Regions from separate parts of the Homo sapiens genome. Here regions 1 and 3 are each linked to region 2. The links come from fine-mapping of genetic effects on gene expression. A gene starts in region 2. Each other region holds a variant in brackets. All regions are shown on one strand. Distances are between the middles of the regions. Region 1 overlaps GALNS (galactosamine (N-acetyl)-6-sulfatase). Region 2 holds the start of APRT (adenine phosphoribosyltransferase). Region 3 has its middle 33 kb from the start of ZNF469.

What was found. PIP is the estimated chance that this variant, and not a neighbour inherited with it, causes the effect.
Region 1: its variant is the best candidate, but not a certain one, in a credible set for the expression of APRT in lung (TOPMed, PIP 0.65).
Region 3: its variant is the best candidate, but not a certain one, in a credible set for the expression of APRT in putamen (GTEx, PIP 0.50).

What each region holds. Positions count from the first base shown.
Region 1 is chr16:88,845,440-88,853,608 of GRCh38, reverse strand. The region is part of intron 1 of GALNS (galactosamine (N-acetyl)-6-sulfatase); the gene reads left to right. Among named protein-coding and RNA genes, the nearest start is that of GALNS, 7.4 kb to the left of the region's middle. RefSeq lists an enhancer at 3,266-3,435. The variant A/G (reference allele first, on the strand shown) is at 3,973.
Region 2 is chr16:88,807,053-88,815,205 of GRCh38, reverse strand. It overlaps APRT (adenine phosphoribosyltransferase), which reads left to right and starts at 3,278. Exons shown (of 5, transcript NM_000485.3): 1 at 3,278-3,386; 2 at 3,550-3,656; 3 at 4,650-4,783; 4 at 5,058-5,136; 5 at 5,366-5,867. The coding sequence starts at 3,307. The coding sequence ends at 5,508. CDT1 (chromatin licensing and DNA replication factor 1) reads right to left here. Exons shown (of 10, transcript NM_030928.4): 8 at 8,003-8,153; 9 at 7,724-7,925; 10 at 5,948-7,091. The coding sequence ends at 6,928. GALNS (galactosamine (N-acetyl)-6-sulfatase) reads left to right here. Exons shown (of 14, transcript NM_000512.5): 14 at 681-1,472. The coding sequence ends at 767. RefSeq lists enhancers at 1,535-2,218, 2,219-2,903, 4,409-4,944, 7,852-8,153 and silencers at 2,616-2,875, 3,126-3,525.
Region 3 is chr16:88,345,454-88,353,622 of GRCh38, reverse strand. It overlaps a transcript of ZNF469 not described here. Among named protein-coding and RNA genes, the nearest start is that of ZNF469, 33 kb to the left of the region's middle. RefSeq lists an enhancer at 2,900-3,867. The variant G/A (reference allele first, on the strand shown) is at 4,362.

The DNA of each region.
Region 1 (8,169 bases), 38 kb before region 2:
GGCGAGCAGCACTCTGTGTCTCCACTCCTTATTTGGAAAATAGGGTTAAGGAGGGTCAGCCCTGACCACAGAGGAAGTGGAGAGTCAGGGCCACCCAGGCCAGCTCCTGTTGCCACAGCAGCCTCGTCGAGCCACCAGAGTCCGGGGAGGGTTGCTCAGTGCCCCTCGTTTGAAACAGACAAGCACTGGCCTGCTCGTCTTCATAATAATCCCATAGCAACCAGTAGGAATGGAAACTGCGTTTCTTAAAACTCTGAAATTCTGAAGGATACTGATCCATGGCTCACAGCTGTGCTCGCTGAACGTGGACAATCATTTGGGGGCTTTTAGGCCTTTTTTTTTTTTTTTTTTTTTTTTGAGATGGAGTCTCACTCTGGTCACCCAGGCTGGATTGCAGTGGTGTGATCTCAGCTCACTGCAACCTCCGTCTCCCAGGTTCAAGCAATTCTCCTGCCTCAGCCTCCCGAGTAGCTGGGACTACAGGCTCCCACCACCGTGCCCAGCTAATTTTTGTATTTCTAGTGGAGACGGGGTTTCACCATATTGGCCAGTCTGGCCTGAAACTCCTGACCTCAGGTGATCTGCCTGCCTCAGCCTCCCAAAGTGCTGGGATTACAGGCATGAGCCACCACACCCAGCCAGGACTTTTTTTTTGAGACAAGGTCTGGCTCTGTCACCCAGGCTGGAGTGCAGTAGCTCGATCACAGCTCACTGCAGCCTCAAACTACTGGGCTCAAGCAATTTTCCTGCCTCAGCCTCCTGAGTAGCTGGGATTATAGCCGCCCATCACCACACTCGGCTAATTAATTTGATCTTCAATCACTGATACCCTTTCTTCCACTAGATCGAATCGGCTACTGAAGCTTGTGCATGCGTCACGTAGTTCTGGTGCCATGGTTTTCAGCTCCATCAGGTCATCTAAGGTCTTCTCTACACTGTTGATTCTAGTTAGCCATTCGTCTCATCTTTTTTCAAGGTTTTTAGCTTCCTTACCATGGATTCAAACATCTTCCTCTAGTTCGGAGAAGTTGGTTATTACCGACTTTCTGAAGCCTACTTCTGTCAGCTCGTCAGAGTCATTCTCTGTCCAGCTTTGTTCCCTTGCTGGCGAGGAGCTGCGATCCTTTGGAGGAGAAGAGGTGCTCTGGTTTTTAGAATTTTCAGCTTTTCTGCTCTGGTTTCTCCCCATCTTTGTGGTTTTATCTGCCTTTGGTCTTTGATGCTGGTGGCCTAAAGATGGGGTTTTGGCGTAGATGTCCTTTTTGTTGATGTTGATGCTATTCCTTTCTGTTTGTTAATTTTCCTTATAAGAGTCAGGTCCCTCAGCTGCAGGTCTGTTGGAGTTTGCTGAAGGTCCACTCCAGACCCTGTTTGCCTGGGTATCACCAGTGGAGGCTGCAGAACAGCAACTATTGCAGAATAGTAAATATTGCTGCCTGATCCTTCTTCTGGAAGCTTTGTCCCAGAGGGGCACCTGCCTGTATGAGGTGTCAGTGGGCCCCTACTGGGAAGTATCTCCCAGTTAGGCTACACGGGGGTCAGGGACCCACTTGAGGAGGCAATGTGTCCGTTCTCAGAGCTCAAACACTGTGCCGGGAGAACCACTGCTCTCTTCAGAGCTGTCAGACGGGGACGTTTAAGTCTGCCGAAGTTTCTGCTGCCTTTTGTTCAGCTATTCCCTGCTCCTAGAGGTGGGGTCTACAGAGGCAGCAGGCTTTGCAGAGCTGCGGTGGGCTCTGCCCGGTTCGAGCTTCCCTGCCGCTTTGTTTACCTACTCAAGCCTCAGCAATGGCGGACGCCCCTCCCCAGGCAGGCTGCCACCTCGCAGGTGGATCTCAGACTGCTGTGCTAGCAGTGAGCAAGGCTCCGTGGGCATGAGACCCTCCGAGCCAGGCCCGGGATATAATCTCCTGGTGTGTCGTTAGCTAAGACCGTTGGAAAAGCGCACTATTTGGGCGGGAGTGTCCTGATTTTCCAGGTGCAGTCTGTCACGGCTTCCCTTGGCTAGGAAAGGGAAATCCCCCAACCCCTCGCACTTCCTGAGTGAGGCGATGCCCCACCCTGCTTCGGCTCACCCTCCATGGGCTGCACTCACTGTCCAACCAGTCCCAGTAGGATGAACCAGGCACCTCAGTTGGAAATGCAGAAATCGCCGTCTTCTGCGTCAATCACGCTGGGAGCTGCAGCCCGGAGCTGTTCCTATTCAGCCATGTTGGAACGGAATCCCCACACCCGGCTAATTAAAAAAAAAGTTTTTTTTAGTGACAGTGTCTGTCTGTGAGACCCAGGTTGGTCTTGACTTCCTGAGCTCAAGCGATCCTCCCTCCTCAGCCTCCCAAAGTGTTGGGATAACAGACGTGAACCACTGGATCCAGCCCTTTTAGGACTTTTAAGGGAGAGAAGAAAGGTGGTTCCTGCCCGTGGTGCCCTGTGGGGGTTTTAGATGTTCAATGGTAACCTGCTCACTCTGCAGGGAGGCTGTCCACACCTGCTTTTCATAGCCAAGAAAGGCGCCGATAAATAATGAAAGAACAGGGTCAGCAGATGAGAGCTGGCCCAGCAGCCTGGGACGCTGTCCTCAGAAGGCCCACGTGTGGGACGTTGCCCTCGGCTGGTCAGAAGGCACATGTGTGGGAGGTTTTTGCCCTCGGCTGGCGTCTGGGAACAGGAGGTCCCCCCGCTGTTCGCTGATAGGAGCAGCTCACCTTGCCACACTGTTTTTGCACATGCCACGATTTATGCCCAGCATCCTCCTTCTGGGCATAAAGAGTCTCGGCACATGCCAGGCAGAGGCGGCCGCACTGCCAGCCTAGGCAAAAGCCCTGGGAACTGAGTCTCGCACAGCTTCCCCGTCAGCATCCCGCACCTGTGCTCGCAGCCCGAGCGTCCCGTGTGGCTCCGCCTGGGGAGGGTTCCACGCTGCGGCTGGTCTCCCCGGCCCCGCCCGCACCTTCTCCCCTGGCTGATGCCCTCCCCGTTGTAAGTCATGGCAGTGAGTAGGACTGTCGCCAAGACCTGGGACTCCTCCCAGCGAGAGTGCTCCCTTGCGGTATCTTCTGAGTCAGTGGTGAGCGTGGAGCCCCCTCCCTCAAGCCCTGGGACTCCTCCCCGCAGTATTTTCTGGTGAGTGATGAGCGTGGAGCCCACTCCCTTTACAGCATTTTCCGCTGCATCCATTCATGTTATTTGTGGCCTGGAACAGGTAGGAGGATGACCCAGGTGAGCACAAGCAGATCCGGACGCAGCTCTGCTGACTGCCGACCTTCTGGGGAGGCCAGACCCGCCTCGGGAAGCCTCAGGACGCAGCCTGCAGGGAGGGTCGGGCACATGGCACCCAGTATTCAGATGTGCGGCCTCACTCCCAGCCCGAAGGGAGCCCAGCAGTGGTCCTGGGCATGGGCAGACAGTGTAACGGGCGAAACATACTGCTCCCTCCCATCCCAGGCCTTGTGCCCCCGGCCCACCTGCCATTCTGTACTCTCCCACCTGGACTGGAGACAGCAGGAAGTGCAGAAGCCACCTGAGAGGATGAATCTGCACTCGGGGAGGTGGAGGGCAAGGAGCTTTGGGCGTGTGTGGCCAGTCCCCCTCAGGCTGGCCTCAGGGAGCTGTACCGTCCCAGCCTGCACTGCAGGTTTCTGCTGCCTCAGTGGGATGCACCTCACCCTGACATGGGCGCATTCGCCCACTGTGACTAGGTGCCACTGAGCCCAAGGTCCCTTCTCAGCCCATGAGCAGCTCTGCGGGCGTCCTGCCCCCTGTCCTCCCACCTCCCTTTCTTCCTCATCAGCTTCAGGGGACACCTCTCTCTAGGTCCTCCTTTCATTCCAGCCTCCATTGTCCTCAGAAAAGCCATTTCAGTGACTTCAAAATAAACCATCTCAGGGCTGGGCGTGGTGGCTCACACCTGGGATCTCAGCACTTTGGGAGGTGGAGGCGGGTGGACTGCTTGAGCTCAGTTCACTCAAGACC[A/G]GCCTGGGCAACGTGGCAAAACTCCATCTCTACCAAAAATACAAAAAAGTTGGCCTGACACGGTGGTTCACACCTGTAATCCCAGCACTTTGGGAGGCTGAGGCAGGTGGATCACCTGAGGTCAGTATTCAAGACCAGCCTGGCCAACATGGTGAAACCCCATCTCTATAAAAAAAATACAAAAATTAGATGAGCTTGGTGGTGGGTGCCTATAATTCCAGCTACTCAGGAGGCTGAGGCAGGCGAATTGCTTGAACCCAAGAGCCGGAGGTTGCAGTGAGCCAAGACCACGCCACTGCACTCCAACCTGGGTGACAGAGTGAGACTCCATCTCAAAAAATAATGATAATAATAATTAACTGGGCATGGTGGCATGTGCCTGTAGTCCCAGCTACTCAGGAGGCTGAGGTGGGAGGATCACCTGAGCCCGGAAGGCAGAGGTTGCAGTGAGCCAAGATCGCGCCACTGTACTTCAGCCTGTTTGTCAGAGTGAGACCCTGTCTCAAAAAAATAAACCATCTCAAAAGGGATCCAAAGCTAAAAGGGCCAAACAGAATTGTGTCCCATGAGACATGGAGGGCCTTTGAGAGGAAAAAGCCCAGACCTGGCCCAGCTCTGGGACTCCACACGTTAGGAGGGGCTGAGGCAAGGAGCGGCCACCCTGCCAAGCTGAGCCTTACAGGCAGGGGCCATGTAGCCTGCCGTCCACCGGGGAAATGGATCATTGCATCCAGACAAAGACCAAGGTGTGACCACGCAGACCTGGATGTCCAGCCACCCACGTGCGCCCAGAGCGGCCCACTGTCCTCCCGCGGTCCCCGGGGCCCAGCGCCCATCCCTCCAGCAGCCGTTCCCAGTCAGCACGCTGCCACCCCCGCCCCCGGTGAGGGCTTCCCCTCTGTTCAGACCCCTGTCACTTCACACAGGCCCCGAGGCTGCTGCTTCTTTGACTTACCAGGACCCAGCGAGTCAAACGCCCACCGGCCCCGACCCAGCAGTGTCAGGGGAGCCCCTGGTCCATCTGCAGAAAACCAGGATGCCCGCACTTCCTTTTTTTTTTTTTTTCAGACGGAGTCTCACTGTCACCCAGGCTGTCCTGCCTCAGCCTCCCGAGTAGCTGGGACCACAGGCGCCTGCAACCACGCCTGGCTAATTTTTTGTATTTTTGGTAGAGACGGGGTTTCACTGTGTTAGCAAGGATGGTCTCGATCTCCTGACCACCTCGTGATCCACCTGCCTCGGCCTCCCAAAGTGCTGGGATTACAGGCGTGAACCACCGCGCCCGGCCTTTCATTCTTTTATAGCCGCTTTACTGAGACGGAATTCGCTGGTGAAAGTGTGCGGGTCATTTTTAGTGTGTTCTCAGAGTCGTCCTGCCACCACACATCGTCACATCATCTTTGTCACCACGGAAGGAAGCCCCAGCCCTGATGGGGGTCACTCCCTTGTGCTCCCCGAAGCCCCTGGCCGACCCGCTCCCCTTTCTGTCTCTAAGGATCTGCCTTTTCTGACGTGTCCGGTGAATGGAATCTTACGGCTCATGGGCCTTGTGTCTATTTTCCCCTCACACAGGGTTTTTGGGCTTCACACACACAGCCTGTGTGAGGACTCCATTCCTTTTCGTGGCTGAGTCATGGTCCACAGTGTGGAGGGACCACGTGTGGCTGAGGCTTCCACCCATGGATGGGCATCCGGGTGTTTCCAGCTTGGCTGCCAGGGAGCGAGCCGCTGTGGGTGTTGGTTCATGCACAGGTTTCCACGTGGACACACTTTTCAGTTCTGTTGGGCGTGTACCAGGGAGGCGCTGCCGGGCGGCGTGGCCACCCTGCGTGGCGCTGCCGGACCTCTCACCAGGTGCTGCGTGTCACGTTCTTACATGGTGTGTGAGGGCTCCAGTTTCCAGTGAGTTCACTTTTAATGTTTTGTTTTGTTTGGTAAAAATCAACCTTAGACAATCAGCGATCAGACTCTAGTCCCTGTCGTGGTGAACTGTGGAGAGACCAAAGTGAGCCTCTCTCCGGCTCTTGGAGCACCAGGGCCCATGCAGCCTGTCTTGGGGTCATTTGAAATGGTGGAAACTTTACAAGGGCCCGATGGGCAGGTGAGCCCCACTCGGCCTCCAGGCACAGCCCTCCTCAAGGTCCCTGCTGTCCATGCAGGTGGCAGTCCTACTCTGTGGGTGAGTCCTGGAGCCACTTGTGACAGGAGGAGGCTGGATGGGGTGAATTTGGAGAAAAGTGGCAGGTTTTTGTTTTTTATTTTTTTGAGACAGGGTTCTCTGTCTGTTACCTAGGCTGGACTGCCGTGGCGCGATCTCAGCTCACTGCAGCCTCTGCCTCCTGAGCTCAGGGGATTCTCCTGCCTCAGCCTCCCAAGTAGCTGGGATTACAGGTGTGTGCCACCATGCCCAGCTGATTTTTTGATTTTTTATAGAGATGGGGTCTCACCTTGTTGCCCAGGCTGGTCAACGAGAGAGAAAAGTATTTCAGAGACTTAAAAAAAGAACCATCGGTGGTCTCCAGTGTGCTTAAGAGCTGCGGGTGGAGCTGTTTGCGTTCCTCCTGAAGGCTTTGGCTGCCAGACATGGCTGGGCTGCAGATACTTGCTTTACTAAGAGGTTTTCCCTCCCTGCCGTCCAGGTGTGTCCACAGGTGTCCACACAACCAGGTGTCGTGAATGTCTGTTCACACTAAGTGGGCTTCTCAGTAACCCCCTGGCCACACCCCCATCTCACCCATCCCAGGAGCCTCCTGGGACCACACACGGGGGTCGGGAGCTTAAAAGAACAGAAACACGGCCGGGCACAGTGCTCACACCTGTAATCCCAGCACTTTGGGAGGCCAAGGCAGGCAGATCACCGGAGGTCAGGAGTTCGAGACCAGCCTGGCCAACATGGCGAAACCCCGTCTCTACTAAAAATACAAAAACTAGCTGAGCATGATGGAGGGCGCCTATAATCCCAGCTACTTGGGAGGCTGAGGCAGGAGTAATCGCTTGAACCCGAGAGGCAAAGGTTGCCGTGAGCCGAGATCGTGCAGGCAAAGGTTGCAGTGAGTCGAGATTGTGCCCTCCAGCCTGGGCGACAACAGCAAGACTTCGTCTCAAAAAAAAAAAAAAAAAAAAAAAAGCCAGAAACGCATTCTGTCTCGGTCTGGAGGCCGGAAGTCTGAGCTCAAGGTGTGGGCAGGACCTCGCTCCCTCGGAAACCTGCAAGGGACCTCTTGCCCCTGCAGCTTCTGGTGGCCCCCAGCCGTCCGGAGCCCATGGCTGTGTGTCTCCCGCCTCTGACCCCATTGCCACACGGCCACCTTCGCCCTGTCTCCTATAAGGACTGCAGTGTGTGGGATGAGGGTCCACCCCCATGTTAGTGACCTCATCTTACTGAATCATATCTGCGGCAACCCTGTTTCTAACTAAGGTCACATGCTGAGCTACACTGGGGCCATGATTTCAGCATAACTTTTGGGGATACAGCTCCACCCATTAACACAGATGAACTGTGATTTATTTAACCAAATTTCTGTTCCCAGTATCTCAACCACAATTTTAAATTGGCATAATGGGTTATACATAGCTGTAATTATTTTCTTAGGATAAACTCCTACAAGTGGAATTGCTGGGCCATGATCTTTTTTTGTTTGTTTGTTTAGTGAGAGTGTCTCACCCTGTTGCCCAGGCTGGAGTGCTGTGGTGTGATCATGGCTCACGGCAGCCTCAACCTCCTGGCCTCAAGTGATCCTCCTACCTCAGCCTCCTGAGTAGTTGGGACCACAGGTACACACCACCACACTTGGCTTTTTTTTTTTTTTTAGAGTTGGAGTCTTGCTGTGTTGTCCAGGCTGGTCTCGAACTCCTGGCTTTAAGTGATCCTCTCATGCCCTTTTTTTTTTTTTGAGACGGAGTCTTGCTCTGTCACCCAGGCTGGAGTGCGGTGGCACAATCTCGGCTCACTGCAACCTCCGCCTCCCGGGTTGAAGCGATTCTCCTGCCTCAGCCTCCCAAGTAGCTGGTACAGGTGCCCGCCACCATGCCCAGCTAATTCTTGTGTTTTTAGTAGAGACTGGGTTTCATCATATTGGCCAGGCTGGTCTCGAACTCCTAACCTTGTGATCCGCCTACCTCGGCCTCCCAAAGTACTAGGATTACAGGCGTGAGCCACCGCACCCAGCCCCATGATTGCCTTTTAAGATAGGGTAG
Region 2 (8,153 bases):
GGCAGCCTTCAGAGCTGAGAGGCCGAGTCAAGAGGGTGCCATCTCCCAAGTTCCCATGATTCCTGGGGAGCGTCTGTGTAGCTGCCCACCTGGACCGAGGTGGTCCCCACACTGAGGCCAATTGGTTGGGGTCCGGGGTTGACCTGGGCAGGGGACACATCAAAACTGCTCGAGGCCAAGCGCGGTGGCTCACGCCTATAATCCCAGCACTTTGGGAGGCCAAGGCAGGTGGATCACCTGAGGTCAGAAGTTTGAGACCAGCCTGGCCAACTTGGGGAACCCTTGTCTCTACCAAAAATACAAAAATGGTTGGGCGTGGTGGCTCACACCTGTAATCCCAGCACCTTGGGAGGCCAAGGCAGGTGGATCACGAGGTCAGGAGTTCAAGACCAGCCTGGTCAAGATGGTGAAACTCCGTCTCTACTAAAAATACAAAAATTAGCCAGGCGTGGTGGCGCGTGCCTGTAATCCCAGCAGCTACTCACTCAGGAGGCTGAGGCAGGAGAATCTCTTGAACCCGGAAGGCAGAGGTTGCAGTGAGCCAAGATCGCGCCACTGAACTCCAGCCTGGGTGACAGAGTGAGACTGTCTCAGAACAGCAACAACAAAATGCCCGCTGCTGCTGGGTCCAGAAGAGCTTGAATAACTGCATGTTCTTTTTCTCAATTTTCATTTCCCAGAACTGGGCACCTCCGGGCTGTGAAAAGTTAGGGAAGTGTCTGACACCTCCAGAATCCATTCCCAAGAAGTGCCTCTGGTCCCACTAGCACCTGCGCAGACTCAGGCCAGGCCTAGAATCTCCGGTTGGCCCTGCAAGTGCCTGGAGGAAGGATGGCTCTGGCCTCGGTCCTCCCCCAACCCTGCCCAAGCCAGACAGACAGCACCTGCAGACGCAGGGGGACTGCACAATTCCACCTGCCCAGGACCTGACCCTGGCGTGTGCTTGGCCCTCCTCCTCGCCCACGGCGCCTCAGATTTCAGGACCCTCCTCCTCGCCCACGGCGCCTCAGACCTCAGGACCCTGCCGTCTCACGCCTTTGTGAACCCCAAATATCTGAGACCAGTCTCAGTTTATTTTGCCAAGGTTAAGGATGCACCTGTGACAGCCTCAGGAGGTCCTGACAACAGGTGCCTGAGGTGGCTGGGGATACAGTTTGCCTTTATACATCTTAGGGAGACACAAGATCAGTATGTGTATGGCGTACATTGGTTCAGTCAGCCTTCCACTGAATACACGATTGAGTCTGGCCCAGTGAATCCGCATTTTTATGTAAACAGTAAGGGAACGGGGCAATCATATAAGCGTTTGTCTCAGGGGAGCCCCAGAGGGATGACTTCCAGTTCCGTCTGTCCTTTGTCCACAAGGAATTTCCCTGGACGCTAATTATGAGGGAGGCGTGTAGCTTCTTATCATTGTAACTATGTTATTTAGAAATAAAACGGGAGGCAGGTTTGCCTAATTCCCAGCTTGATTTTTCTCTTGGCTGAGTGATTTTGGGGTCCGGAGATTTATTTTCCTTTCACACCTTCTCAGCAGCTGCCAAGAATCAGGTGCCCAGCTCCCGCTGCCTCCCGGCCGGCCTCCTCCAGAGGCCAGCGCCACATTGGTTGTTGAAGGGCAGGACTCGGGGCTCCTTGCTGTTCCCACGCCAGCCCAACAGCCCGGGTTGAAGGAAGCCACAGGGCCAATTCTGTGTTGAACCCTCCCCAGGCCCCTCCTCCAGTACCCCCCCACCCCACGCCTTCCCAGGCCCCCCTCGGGCCATCTGGGAGACAGAATCAGGAACAAGGAAGGGGAAGGCGGAGGCCTCCTGGGCTGGACGTGGACGGCTGAAGTGTAGCTCACACACTTGGACCGGTGGGGCCGGCTCATGTGGCAGCTTCCCCGGGGACGTGAGGATGTCAGGGTCCTCCATTTCCACCTTCCCTAGGGGTCTGGAGCCCAGGCCCCAGGCCTTGCCAGCCCTGACCACCGCACACTGCGAGGCAGCCGCCCCTACCACGCCCCTTGGCATCAGACGATGGGTCCCCCACCCGCCCTGGAACCGGGGCCCCAGCAGCCGCATGCAGCCTCCGGCCTCCCCCTCCGAAGGCTCCTGGGGGCTGCCTTCCACTGAGTGGGTTTTCCCTTCTGCAGTAACTGCCAGGCCAAAGCTGAATTGTAAAAGTTGCGAAATGATGGGCCGGGCGCGGTGGCTCACGCCTGTAATCCCGGCACTTTGGGAGGCCGAAGCGGGCAGATCACGGGGTCAGGAGATCGAGACCATCCTGGCTAACACAGTGAAACTGCGTCTCTACTAAAAATACAAAAAATTAGCAGGGCGTGGTGGCGGGCTCCTGTAGTCCCAGCTACTCGGGAGGCTGAGGCGGGAGAATGGCCGGAACCCAGGAGGTGGAGCTTGCAGTGAGCCCAGATGGCGCCACTGTGCTCCATCCTGGGCGACAGAGCGAGAGTCCTTCTCAAAAAAAAGTTGCGAAATGAAGAAAAGTCTTGGAATAGAGCACAAGGCATTTTAGCTCTGGGGATTTTCTTGAAAGGAAATTGTGTTTGGGGGGAGTTATGCCTCACACAACCCCCTGGGTACCAGTCCTCGGGCGGCCAGGGGGTTCACAGCTCCCCACCCCAAGGCTAAGGGGTCACCTGGCCTCTGCAGGCGGACAGAAGGGCTTCTGCCCTCGCGGATGCGCGCCCTGGCCTGGCCACACCTTCCGGCCTCCCTCCCCCGGGTCCGGGCGGGGAAGAGCCGCCTCAACGGCAGGGCCCATCCGCGAGAGGCCAGCGCCCCCGGCCGGTCCAGCCCAGGCCCGCCGCCTCCGCCCTGGGCTGCTCCCTCCGGGCCCTGCACCGCCCTCCTGCTACTTGGACCGCTTCCTCACGCCCTTCTCCACCCCGCGCGCCAGCCTCCCGCGCGCAGCGTGGGGATCTCGGCCAATAAAGGAGAAAGGGCGCGGCCCGTACGCGCGCCAGGTGCGTGGGCGAGACCAGCTCACGCCCCTCCTCCAGCCGCCAAGGCCCCGGCCCACAGCTGCCTGGCTGCAGTCAGAAGCGTAGCCCGAGACAAGGAAGGGCGCCTTGACTCGCACTTTTGTCCGGTTCGAACGTTCTGCTCAGTGGTGCGTGGAATGCGAGCGCGTCTTAAAATCGATGGCGCCTAGGAGTCCATGAAATACGGTACAGGCTTCCGGCGACGGATGCCCCGCCCCTCACCCACGCTCCGCCCTCCGGGGATGCCCCACCCCTCGTGGCGGTCCCGCCCGTCCCCGCGCAGGCGCGCTCGGGCTGCCGCTGGCTCTTCGCACGCGGCCATGGCCGACTCCGAGCTGCAGCTGGTTGAGCAGCGGATCCGCAGCTTCCCCGACTTCCCCACCCCAGGCGTGGTATTCAGGTGCACGCACAGGCCGCCCTCGTGGCGCCCCGACCTGCGGGCCTACGGATGGGAGCGCGTGGCCCGCGACCTCCGGGCGGGCGGGGCGGGAACCCTCGTCTTTCGCCCCCGGGGCCCTGCCCTCCTTCGGCCCCGGCGTCACCAGGCCTGTCCTTGGGTCCAGGGACATCTCGCCCGTCCTGAAGGACCCCGCCTCCTTCCGCGCCGCCATCGGCCTCCTGGCGCGACACCTGAAGGCGACCCACGGGGGCCGCATCGACTACATCGCAGGCGAGTGCCCAGTGGCCGCATCTAGGGCGCTTCCGCCTCTGCGCGCGCCGAGGGCAGCACGTGGGCTCTGCGCGTCTGCTTGGGGGAGGGCCTTTGGGGTGCTTCAGGGGGCGCCGGGACGGGCGCCGTGCTTGGGTCGCCCGGGAAGGGTTGTGAGATTGAGCCCCCGAGGCCGCCGCGCTGTGCAGGCGTCCTTCCCGCAGGTTCCGGGTCCCCAGCCCAGGACAGGCGTGACCGAGTTGCCGGGTCAGTTGGTCTCCCTGGAGTGCCCAAGCTGAATCCACAGGGCCCAGCTGCCTTGCTTCTTGTTCCTTCTGCGAGCTGGTATTGAGCGCCTGCCACGAGCCAGGCCTTCCCTGGTGAAGATCACGGAATGCCCACCCAGGGAAGGGAGGCCTGGAGGCCTCCGGGAGAGCCCAAGAGGTGGCCCAGGGAGAACAGAGTGTTCCTGGCCGTCTTGCCTCTCCTAGGGTGTGACAGCCCACTCCCTGGACACTGCCCTGAGGAAAGCGCCAGCTCTTGCTGGAGCCACAACACTGCCAGAGCTCCCTTCTCACCTCCTGCAGGAAGCCCTCCCTGACCTCCTGCCAGGCCGGGGCAGGGTTTCCCTGAGCGTCCCCCAACCATCACAGCTCAGGCCACCTCGAGAGACTCCCTTTTTAGACAGAAGCCCTGGTGCAGAGCTGCCTTTGAGAGTAAGCTGAGGCCTGTCAGGTTTCTACCAGCCCAGTTACAGATGGGCTGCTCAGCTCAGAGAGAGGGGTGGTGACTCCCCTAGGAACACACAGCTAAGAAGTGGTCCCTTAAAAGACAGACCCAGGTCTGCACTCTGACCTGGAAGCAGCTCCGGGTAGGTGATGGGTAACATTCCTTAAATGGTGCATGTCACTGGCCTTTCAGCTGGGAGCCAACCAGGTACCCCTTGCCACCGGCCAACCCTGGCCCCTGGGGATTCCCATGCTGCCGAGTCACTCCTGTCACTTACCCTGACAGGCCTAGACTCCCGAGGCTTCCTCTTTGGCCCCTCCCTGGCCCAGGAGCTTGGACTGGGCTGCGTGCTCATCCGAAAGCGGGGGAAGCTGCCAGGCCCCACTCTGTGGGCCTCCTATTCCCTGGAGTACGGGAAGGTAAGAGGGCTGGGGTGGCCAGAGGAAGGGCAGGGCCAGGCCACCGTGGCCACTCTCCCCCAGTTCTAAAAGGCCTTCCCAGGCGTGTCAAGTGGAGCTGCTGTGGTTACAGTGGCCTTGGGAGCTCAGAGAGGTTGAGACATAGGCTGGGCTCACACAGCCAGGTAACAGCAAGGTGGGGTTGGAGTCAGGGTCTAGGGTGGCAGCTGCCAAGCTGTGCAACAAAGCTGTTTTCTGCGGGAGGCTGAGGACCACACACCACTTCCCACTCCAGGCTGAGCTGGAGATTCAGAAAGACGCCCTGGAGCCAGGACAGAGGGTGGTCGTCGTGGATGATCTGCTGGCCACTGGTGGTAAGGGTCTCCCCGCAGCCAACTGCTGTGGCTCCAAGGGCCTGGTGGGAGTGGGACAGGACCTCGCTGTGTGACATGGGATGCAGCTTACTGTTGTCCAGAGGGTGCCTGGTGGCCAGGCCGACACCTTCCTCTCCCCATGCCTTCCCCTCCCCAACCCAGGGGCTGGCCTGGAGCACCTGCTCTCTGCAGCCCAGGCCAACTGGGGACCTCACCCTCCCATCCCCAGGAACCATGAACGCTGCCTGTGAGCTGCTGGGCCGCCTGCAGGCTGAGGTCCTGGAGTGCGTGAGCCTGGTGGAGCTGACCTCGCTTAAGGGCAGGGAGAAGCTGGCACCTGTACCCTTCTTCTCTCTCCTGCAGTATGAGTGACCACAGGGCCTCCCAGCCCAACATCTCCAGCTGGATCCCAGGGAAATATCAGCCTTGGGCAACTGCAGTGACCAGGGGCACCGGCTGCCCACAGGGAACACATTCCTTTGCTGGGGTTCAGCGCCTCTCCTGGGGCTGGAAGTGCCAAAGCCTGGGGCAAAGCTGTGTTTCAGCCACACTGAACCCAATTACACACAGCGGGAGAACGCAGTAAACAGCTTTCCCACAAGAGCCGTCTCCTGTCCTCCTGTTCCCCAGGGCAGGGAGCCCCAGGACAACACCAGACTTCAGCTGTACTGTGGGCATGTGCTGCTTGGCGTGATGCCCAGCAGAACCTGTCCTGGTTCTCACCTCAGGAGCTAGAACCCTCCAGGCACTGCAGGAAGAGGCCATGTGGGCCCATCTTCTAGGGGAGCAAGCGAGGGCTCTTCTGCAGATCTAGTGGCTGTAAGCATGACTTTATTAGAGTTTAGGAGGTCAGAAATACTGAAGTCAAGGTGTGGGCAGAGGCCAGTCCCTTCTGGAGGCTCCAGGGATGTCCTACTTGTCCTGCCCAGCTTCTCCAGGCTGCCTGTGTCGGGGCAGGGCCGCGTCTTCAAAGCTGGCTGGCTCTGGCCCTGTCATGAAGGCCCTGTGATGACATGGGGCGTAGCTGGACAATTCAGGATCACCTCTCCAGTCTTGAAATTTTTTTTTTTGAGACGGAGTCTCGCTCTGTCACCCAGGCTGGAGTGCGTGCAGTGGTGCGATCTTCGCTCACTGCAAGCTGTGCCTCCTGGGTTCACACCATTCTCCTGCCTCAGCCTCCCTAGTAGCTGGGACGACAGGTGCCCACCACCACACCCGGCTAATTTTTTGTATTTTTAGTAGAGATGGGGTTTCACCATGTTCGCCAGGATGGTCTCGATCTCTTGACCTCGTGATCTGCCCACCTTGGCCTCCCAAAGTGCTGGGGTTACAGGCGTGAGCCACCACACCCACCCCAGTCTTTCTTAATGACAAAAGTCACCCTTTGCTGTGGGAGGTCCCATATTCAGAGGTTCCAAGATTAGAGGGGATGGCCTGCCACCCACACTACCCAACCCCATATTGCCACAGAGCCCCCTTCACCCCCAGCCACACTCCCGATGGCCCCCCAGGGGGTGCTGGATCTGGCTTCCCTTCCCCACCAGCAGCAAGGACAGAGGTGCCCACAGAAACCGGTTTAATGTGAATCCACCAGGTGAGCCCCATGAAGGGGCCCACCGCCCGCAGCCAGAGACCCTCGGGCTGTGCAGCCTGCAGCCCACATCTGCCTCTGGCCCTCAGGGGCGCTGGGGAAAGGAAGGCCAAAGTGTATCATGTTCATAAAAGAAAATGCTGGTGGGCCCAGGCCAGCGAGCTTCTGAAGCCCACGTCTGTCCACAGTGGCCCCCAGGCTCACAGCCCCTCCTCAGCACGTGTCTGGTGGGCCAGGCGTGCAGTGATGTGGGCGAGGTCCGCGGCCTTGTCCAGCTTGACGTAGGTGTCGGTGCGGATGCGGTGGAGGCTGAGCCAGTCCGGCAGCAGCTCGGAGAGGAGCAGCAGGTGCTTCTCCATTTCCCCTGGGGGAGGAGAGGAGGACACTGAGGCTGGTGCTGGGCCCCAGCCCTGCACGGGCAGCACTTGAAACCAGCCTGACCACCCAACCTCTGTGCCTGCCTGGTCGCCCTCAGGGCCCCATCACCAGGACTTAGGGCAGAGGTGGTTCTGATCAGAGGCCCAGGTCTGGGTGGTGTGAACAGTGACCGGAGAGAGCCAGGCCTACAGTTGAGGCCCTGTGAGGAGGCACCGAGCATGGAGGCCGCCAGCCCATGAAAGCCCTGAGGCAGGAGGTGCCCTGTAGCGTCAGGACCCCTATGTGCTCAGGGCCTGGTCACCAGAGGCCTGGGAGGCAGTGGAGGGTGCATGTGGGGCCCCTTCTGACCAAGGACTGCAGGTGGTCAGGGAAAGGGCCAGAGCTGTGAGGGGGAAGCTGCCTCCAGAGGCTGCAGGTGTGGAGGGGCCGGGCGGAGGCTCAGGGGTGGCTCCAAGGAGGGCAGAGCGCCCAGGACACACCAGTGCAAGAGGCCAGCGCCCACTGCACATCTGAACAGAACAGATCAGTGACAGACACCTCTGCTCAGAAAGCTGGGGAGGCAGCTGCAGCACCAGGCAATTCCACCCTGCACGCCCCTTCACCCCGCCCTGCACGTACCAGGGCTCATGATAGTACAACAGCTGCCCACCATCCTGGCACAGGCCACCTCCATGCTGAGCGCAGGCTTGCGTTCGGACACAAAGACGCTCCGCAGCACGCGGGCCAGCTCAGGCAGCCGTTCTAAGCGCTGCAGCCGCTGCTCCTGCTCCGGGCACCGCGTCATCTGTGCCAGCTGCTTCTGTGCCTCCTTGGCTCGGATCTGCAGCAGGTACCGGGACCTGGTTAGTGGGCAGCAGGTCACCAGGCGCCCACCCGCCATCACTGGGGACGACTCACCCGCTCCAGCAGATCCTGGGACACCCCCTTCAGAGCACTGGGAGAGGCTGCAGGCGGGGTGGCTGGTGGGGTAGCCGGCAGTGCTGGCCTGGGAGACCCGGGGCTGCTGGGCGCAGCAGAGCGCAGGGCCAATTGACTCAAGGCCTTCTCC
Region 3 (8,169 bases), 460 kb after region 2:
CATGCTCTGAAGCAACACCGAGCAGGGAAGGCCTAAGGCACCCAATGGGCTCCGGGAGCCTCTCTGGGCAGGCAGCAGTGAGCCGCGAGAGGCTGGCGGAGGGCGTTGTGCGCAAAGGCCCTGGGGCAGGAAGCCGCTGGTGGCTCTGTACAGCGTGAAGGGGGCCAGGGTGTGGGGCTGGGGAAGCTGGGTGGGACTGAGCCCCAAGCGGAGGTGGGCGCCGGGTCACAGGCCTCTTGTCATTGGCATGGGAGTAGTGACACTGTCCCGCCCTCTGAGTGGGAGGGCAGAAGCCATCGGTGGTTCCTGCGTGGAGGAAGACATGGCAGACTCACGTTTTAAAGAGCCAGGGTCCCTCCAGCCGCATTATTGGGAGCGTATTGTGACGTCTCGAGTGAGAGGGCTGGACCTGGGAGCGCTCTCTCTGCAGTGAGACTTACGGCCTCGGAGGTGCACTGTCCGCAGGACTGTTAGGCGACCAGCATTCTCTGGACCATCCCACCCTGGGATGTCAGCCCACCTAAGGGTTTCCCTCCTGCTTGGCACCACCCTGAGCCTGAGCCTGGTCTCTCCCTGCCCAGACCCTGCAGTCTCACCGGGGCCTGCCTGGGCGCCCCCAACTTGCTGGGCCTGAGAACCACATCTCTCTGGCTGGCCTCCCACCCCAGGCTGGGCCTGGCTCTCTGCCCCCACCTCCCAGGCCTCTCCAACGGAGGGGACCCAGGAGGAGCCGTCTCACTCGGTGGGCTCTGGGGCAGTGCCCAGGGGTCAGGCCCATGCAGCAGGACGGGGTCAGCCATCAGAGCTGTGAGGCCGGGGCAGCCATATGCCCACATCTCCCTGTGATGTGGACCTGCCTAGGGAGGGAGAAGAGGGGAGAGAAGACCCTTGGGGCTGTAGCCTCGAAATCTTCCACGCCACGTCCCCACGGCTGCTACCAGCCAGGGAGGGGAAGGGCTCATTCCCACGGCAGGTTTGGTACCAAAGTGCCCACCATCGGCCCCGTCTACCAGTTCTGGGAAGTTGGCCCCATGCCTGTTGTGGTTGTACAGACAAGGACACAGGCCTGAGGGCTTCAGGAACCTGCCTGGCAGCCCAGTGGCCTGGTGCTGAGCCATGGTGCCCAGTGTGCCCTTCCGTGCCCGTCAGCACCATGCTCAGCCTCCACACAGGCAACCCCTCCCTCTGTGCACCTGCAGCACCCTCCAAAAGGCCCTGGCTCTGTTATTGGTTTCATAAGTGAAATTCTCTCAGATGAGTCACGAGGACACCAGGCAAATTTGTCATTCCTCTGGGTTGGCATGAAGCTTCTTTACTGCGACAAAATACATACTCCTAAAATTCACCGCTGCCACCATCTGAAAGGGCACAGTTCGGTGGCAGTTTGGTGGCAGTGAGTTGTCCATGGCATTGTGCACCCGTCCCCTCTCGCTGGTTTTGGAGCTTTTTCCTAACCCTAGAAGGAAACCTGTTCCTCTGGGTAGTCACTCTCCATCCCCCGCCCCCAGCCCCTCGCACCCATGGACCCGCTTTCTGTGTGTGCCTGTTCCGGGTGTTCCCTAGAAACGGAATCCCACCATGTGTGGCCTGTTGTGGCTGCACCACCTGCAGGTTTCTCTGTGTCGTGGTGAGCGTCACCATCATATTTCTCCTCGGGGCGGAGGGGCCTCCCTTCCTCACGTGGGACACGTCGTGTTTCTCCACCAGCCAGGTGACCCAGTTTCGAAACCCACTATAGACATCAAATGAGATGCTGGAGCGAGCACGGCACCACTTGTCATTTCCCAGTGGAGACAAGCAAGGGTGGGGAGAGGGTGGTGGGTGGTGGCAAAGCGTGGCCCGGCCTCAAACCCTGGAGCCCCGCACAACCCCCTGCACCCTGCTGGTGGGGGAGGAGCTCCGGCTGGGGCCTGCTGCCGGCGGTGGGGGTGGGGGCCTCCACAGAGGGCCGTCTGGACCTCAGATCCACAGCCCAGGGCGGCCGCCACAGCACGGGACTTGGTCAGTGTCATTGGAGCGTCGGCGGCCCCTTTGTCCTTTCGCGGAGGACACGGGGACATCACAGGCCGCCTGGGGAGCCTGGGATGCTCTTGCTCCTGAGGGGTCAGGGCCTTTCTGGGACCTGTGCTTTGATTTTGGTTTTGTCAGACAACAATCCCACAGGCCCAGGGCGGTGCCATGTGAGGCCTGTGGGGCTGAGTAAGGTCTCAGATCCCCTGAATTTAACGTCCTCATCCCATGGCTGGGGTGATGGAGGCCTGCACAGAGGCCTGTGGGGCAGAAGAAGGTCTCAGAAACTCCCAGCATTTAACGTCCTCATTGTATGGCTGGGGAAACGGAGACCCACACAGCCCAGTGACCCGCAGCTGGGCACCCGGGACCAGCAGTGGGAGGGGGCAGCCGTCCAGCCTTTGGCTACGCCACCGAGGGCCGGGTGTGTGCCGAGGTCAGGGACAGGCCACACTGCCTGTCACCTATCACCCTTTCCTGAGCACCTGGAGTGACTGACCCCGACATGCTGAAGACCAGGAAACAGGCCCAGCAAGGTCACAGCAGGTGTCCAGGGTCACATGGCCACGCCGGGGGAGCGCGGCAGGTCGCCTTGCTGCTGCAACAGGCCACACACACTTGGAGGCTTGGAACACACATTTATTCCTCCACAGTTCTGGAAGTCAGGGTCCAAAATCACTCTCACTGCTTCCACGAACATCAGGGTGTTGGCGGGGCTGGGTCCTTCCGGAAGCTCCAGGGGAGAATCTTTTCTCTTGGGGAGAATCTGTTTCTTGCCTTTTCCAAATTCTAGAGGCCTGCATTGCTGGGCTCAGGGTCCTCTGCCTTCAGAGCCCGCAGCGCGTGTCTCTAACCTCTGCTGCCATAATCAACATCTACTTCTGGCCAAGAGGGAGGTTGGCTCAGCATTGAGGAGCTTGGTGATGACATCAGGAGCCCTGGGATCTTCTCCCATCTCAGCGTCCTGAACGTCCCCCTTTCACCACGTGAGGTTCCGGAATCATGATCTTATTCCGCCCACCACAGGGAGGCTAAGCGTGAGTCCAGGCTGGTCTGCCTCCCCTGTTAATTCAGGTCCTGGCCATCTTCCGGAGGGGAAACTGAGGCTCTGAGAGGGAGGCGACCTGCCTGGTCATGTGCTGGTGAGTGGCCCAGCCCAGGCGAGAGCTGGTGGTGGGGCTTCCCTGCCCTCCCCTAGGCGATTCTGGCCAAGGGAGGTGGGTGCGCCGGGAGGTGCCCATGGCCTTGTGCCGGGATGTGGCGCTTGTGCTGGAGCCTGTGTGGGCACCATCCAGGTCCCTGCGTGGATCATGCCAAGGGGAGGGGAGCGGACGGGGGGGCAGGGCCCTTGGGACAGGAGGGCAGTGCTGTGGGAGGCTGCTCACTGTGACACCTTTGGAGATCCGCCTGGAGCAGCTGCTGTGGCTGCCTTGTGTTTAAACGTGGACAGTGTTTGACCTTCGGTTACTAAAGCAGCTCCATGATTGCACCCTCCGCCCCAAGGGGGGCGGGAGGAACTGCCCTTCTCGTGCCTGCCGGGCTGGGCCATGGCAGAAGCTGGGGGTGTCTGTGTGTGATGTGGGTGCACATGGTCTGTACGCTGTGCGTGCTGCATGTGCTTGTGGTGTGTATTGTGTGGTATGTATCGCTCATGGTGTGTATTTGTGTCTCGTGTGTTGTGTGGTATGTGGTGTGTAGTGTGTATTGTGTGTGATGTGTGTGCAAGTGTGTGGTGTGTATTGTGCATGGTGTGTGTGCACTTGTGTGTGGTGTGTATGGTGCCTCGTGTGTGTGCATTTGTGATGTGTGTAATGTGCCTGGTGTGTGTGCACTTGTGTTGGTGTGTATTGTGCTGGGCATGTGTGCACTTGTGTGTGGTGTGTATTGTGCTGGATGTGTACTTGTGTGGTGTGTGTATTGTGCTTGGTGTGTGTGCACTTGGGTGCAGTGTGTATTGTGCCTGCTGTGTGTGCACTTGTGTTGGTGTGTATTGTGCTGGGTGTGTGTGTGTACTTGTGTGGTGTGTGTATTGTGCTTGGTGTGTGTGCACTTGGGTGTGGTGTGTGCCTGGTGTGTATGCACTTGTGTTGGTGTGTATTGTGTAGAGTGTGTGTGTACTTGTGTATGGTGTGTATTGTGCCGGGTGTGCGTACTTGTGTGGTGTGTGTATTGTGCCTGGTGTGTGCACTTGGGTGTGGTGTGTGTGGTGCCTGGTGTGTGTGCCCTTGTGTGTGGTGTGTGTGTGTGATATGTGTGTACTTGTGTGTGGTGTGTGGTGCTCATGTGCATGTCCCATGCAGCGTGTGTGGTGTTCGCTGCTACCTGAAGGTCACCTGTGCGTGTAGAGCCTC[G/A]CTCAGCCCTCTTGGCTGTGAAGCCTCCGTCTGTCTCTCATGGCCTCAGTTTCCTGCTCCGTCGGGGAAGGCTGCACCGGCCTGGGTGTCTGGAACCGAGGTGCTGGTGAGGGGGGACGAGTGGCTGCTTGCTTCTTTTTCCAGGTTGCTGGAAGCCTCCTGCCTCCCGCCCAGAGCCATGCTGGCCTGTGGATCTTTCCGAGTAAAGCGATGGAAATGGTCAGAGAGGCCGCAGTCGGCTTGGGGCCTGCGTGGGAGGCAGGGGCCGAGGACTCGTATGCTGTCCCCAGCTCAGGACTGGCTGTGGGGGCTGTGGTGAGCCCTACCCTGTCCCGGGAGAGCGGCTGTGTGCACCACACACACGCAGGCACACACATACATGCCCACGCGTGATGCCGAGTGCCTGTGGGGTCCTGTGTGACCATTCCCCCGACAGCCCCAGGGGCCTCAAGAAGGAGACGACAGGTCTTCTTCAACTCTTCACCTGGAGAGTTGGGGTCCCAGGGCAGTGGGGCGGCTGAGGCAGGCTCCCCGGATCCAACCCAGGTCCCAGCCCCCAAATGGCACCTCAGGAGGTCCCCACGTCTCACGGCAGGGGTCTGGGCAGGGCCTGGGCTGGCCCTGGTCAGTGCTGTCCCTCACCTGTTTGACCCGGTCCACTGGGACACTGTTGGACCCCCACTCCCTGTACAGCTCCCCCGTGTGGGCAAATCAGCAGGTCATCCCAGTTCTGGGGCTGAGGGTGGCGGGGTCTTGAGGCAGGTGCAATGGTGGCCCCTGAGGGATATGCCCATGTCCCAACCCTGGGGACCTGTTGGTGTGGCCTTATTTGAAGCCAGAGTCTTTTCTGGTGTCATGGAGCTGGGTTCGCACAGGAGTGGGGTGGGGCCCTGAATCTTATGATGGGTGTCCCTACAAGGACAGGGAAACGAGAGGCACGCACAGGGGAGACAGCAGTGTGAAGCCAGAGGCAGGGACAGCAGCAATGTGGCCACAAGTCAGGGAGCTCCCGCAGCCACCAGGAGCCAGAAGAGGCAGGAAGGCGGCCCTGAGCCACCTTGACTTTGCACTTCCGGCCCCAGAGCTCTGAAAGGATCGCTTCTGCTGCTGCTGTCAGGGAAGCCCCAGGGGACGCACACAGATGCGAAGGGGCAGGTGGGCCAGCCCAGAAGACTCAGGCTCCGACCCGCTGCTGTCCCTGGCCCACCACGACCATGCTCCGCCCACCAGGCTTCCACAGCGAGGAGGACGTGGGGGTGCAGGGTAGACCGTTTGGGCCTCTGGGCTCCTGACACCTGGCGGAGCTCTCTGGGAAGAGCCCTGCCCTGCCTGGTCTGAGATCCTCCTCCTCAGGGGTCATGGGGCACCCCTACTCCAGCTGTACCCTGCACACCTCTCACAGGACTCTGCTATCTTCCTGGGAGGCCCAAACACATCCAATGGTCCCAGGAGGCGGGTGGGTGCTGGGCGTGGCCCAGGACTTGAGACGCCTTTGGGGTGAATTTGAGCCAAGGCTGGAAAGGCGAAGATGGGAGGACCAGAGGCAGGGGTGAGGTGCAGGTTCTTCACTGTGATTGGAGGAGACTGGCCCCGCCTTCCCCACAGTTCTTCACATCGGGGTGGATGTGGGGCAGATGGGTTTCCTGGGGCCATGATAACCAAGTATCACAGATGGTGTGGTTAAAACGGGAGTTTATCGTCACAGTTCTGGAGGCTGGAAGTCCAAAGTGAAGATGGTGGGGCTGGTTCCTGCGGATGTCAGGAGGGAGGGTCTGCTCCGGGCCTCTCTCCTGGGCTTGGCGACACTGTCTCCTCCGGGTGTCTACGTGTGACCGTCTCTCTGGGTGTGCCCGCGGCTCAGTGGAAATCTCACCTTTGAATAACAGTGCTAGTGAATTAGGACCCGGCCTAATGACCATGTCTTCACTTGAGCATCTGCAAAGCCCCTATTTCCAAAGAAGGGCCCGTGCACGGGTGTGGGGGTGGGGCCCTGACGTCTTTTGGGGGATCGAATGTAGCCAAAACATGGGATCTCACTCGTCCAAAGGTTCAGGGGCCTCCTGCATTGCCTCATAGGTGTGGGTCCCCAGCTTGGTGGGAAGGAGGTAGGGCCGGCATCCTGCTCCCAGGGAAGCAAAACCAACACAGGTGACACCATGCTGAGACCGCCCAAGCTCAGCCGTACGGCCTGTTCACACATTACCACATTTCTGCTCTTTCCCTGTGAATTTATCTTACTTCCCCCCAGAACCAGCAGGAATGACATTTCTTGCTAAATACCTCAGTGTGCCTCTCCTGGGAACGAGGGCCTTCTCCCGAGGGTGGCCAGGCCAGCTGGTTCTTCCCGGCTGCCGATTTTCATTCTGTGGTTCTGAAGAAAGTCTGAGGGAGGATGTGGCAGCGTGGACACAATGGGAACCTGAAAGTCCAGCAGTGGGCAGGTCCAGGGCCAGCTCGCTGCCTGAGCAGCTTGGGACGCACACACAGGGCCGCCCATCTCCCCACTTCCTCTTAAAGGAAGGAACAGGTCCAGCCTGGGCAACATAGCGAGACTCCATCACTACAAAAATTAAAAAATTAGCCAGGTGTGGTGGTGCGCACCTGTAGTCCCAGCTACTCGGGAGGCAGAGGCAGGAGGATTGCTTGAGCCTGGAGGTTCAGGCCGCGGTGAGCCAACATCGTGCCACTGCACTCCAGCCTGGGCAACAGCGCGAGACCCTGTCTCTAAAAAATAAAAAAAATAAAAGTAAATAAGAGTAGGAGCAACGGTCCTGCTGTAGGGTTTGCTCTGTGGCTTTGAGGTGGCATGGGAGCTGCATGTGCAGGTCCAGGCCAGGGCTGGGAGGGAGGGGCTCCGGGCAGCCGACCTGGAGTTTCCCAGCGAGTTCTGCCAGGAGCCGGGGTCTGTTTTGGTGATTAGTGGACAAGCGTAGCTGGGTCCCCAGCACACTCGCAGGGCCTCGTGGTCAGCAGAGGTTCTCCCGAGATGAACGGGCCAGAGACCATGCTTCTCCCTCACCCAGCAGCCTGCACCGGCCGTCCCCACATCCTGGAAACCACTGGAGAATCGGGCCTGGGATGGAGCCGAGAACTCCCATCCCTGGAGATATCTGTCGGGCACCCACGGAGGAAGAGTAGGAAAGGAATAAAAATTCTTTTGTAATGCTCTCGGCTGTGAAGTTCAGCACTTTAGCCAGAAATCTGAGTGGTGTGCTCACAGCCTGACCCGGTCCAGAGCCCCACCTCTCACGCTCCTGCCCCCGCCAAGAATAATGGGAACAGATGGCGCCATTTTCCTCTGGTCCTTCCAGGGTGATGCGATGCCAGGTCATTGTAGTGATATTCGACGAGGGAGCAGGTCTAGATCCTTCTGGATGAAGGGCAGAGTTGCTGAAGCCTGAAGGTCACCTCTGGCAGCCTCGGTGGGGCCTGGCGGGCGGGCTGGCAAGCATTCTCCCCTATGAAAAGCTGACTCTCGTAAAACCCTCCTTCTTCCAGTCCGGGGGAGTTCCATCCACGTGAGGAGAGCTGGAGCCAGTGTTTTGGTGGAAGCAGGCAAGGCTTTGGAAAGCGCCCTTCCCTGCATGGTGAGCCAGAGGCTCCCTCTGGGCTTGTGTGAAATGGACCCCGTGGCGACCCCACGGGCAGAGGGGACAGCTGCCCAGGTGTGGGTTCTGCCATGCCAGCCTGCAGAGGCCTCTCGTCTTACAGAGGGCAGTGACGTGCCCACATCTCATGGTGAGTGACCACAGAGGGGCCCTGGTGCAGATCCCATGCTCCTGGTGTCACCTACCCAACGTTTGCGTGT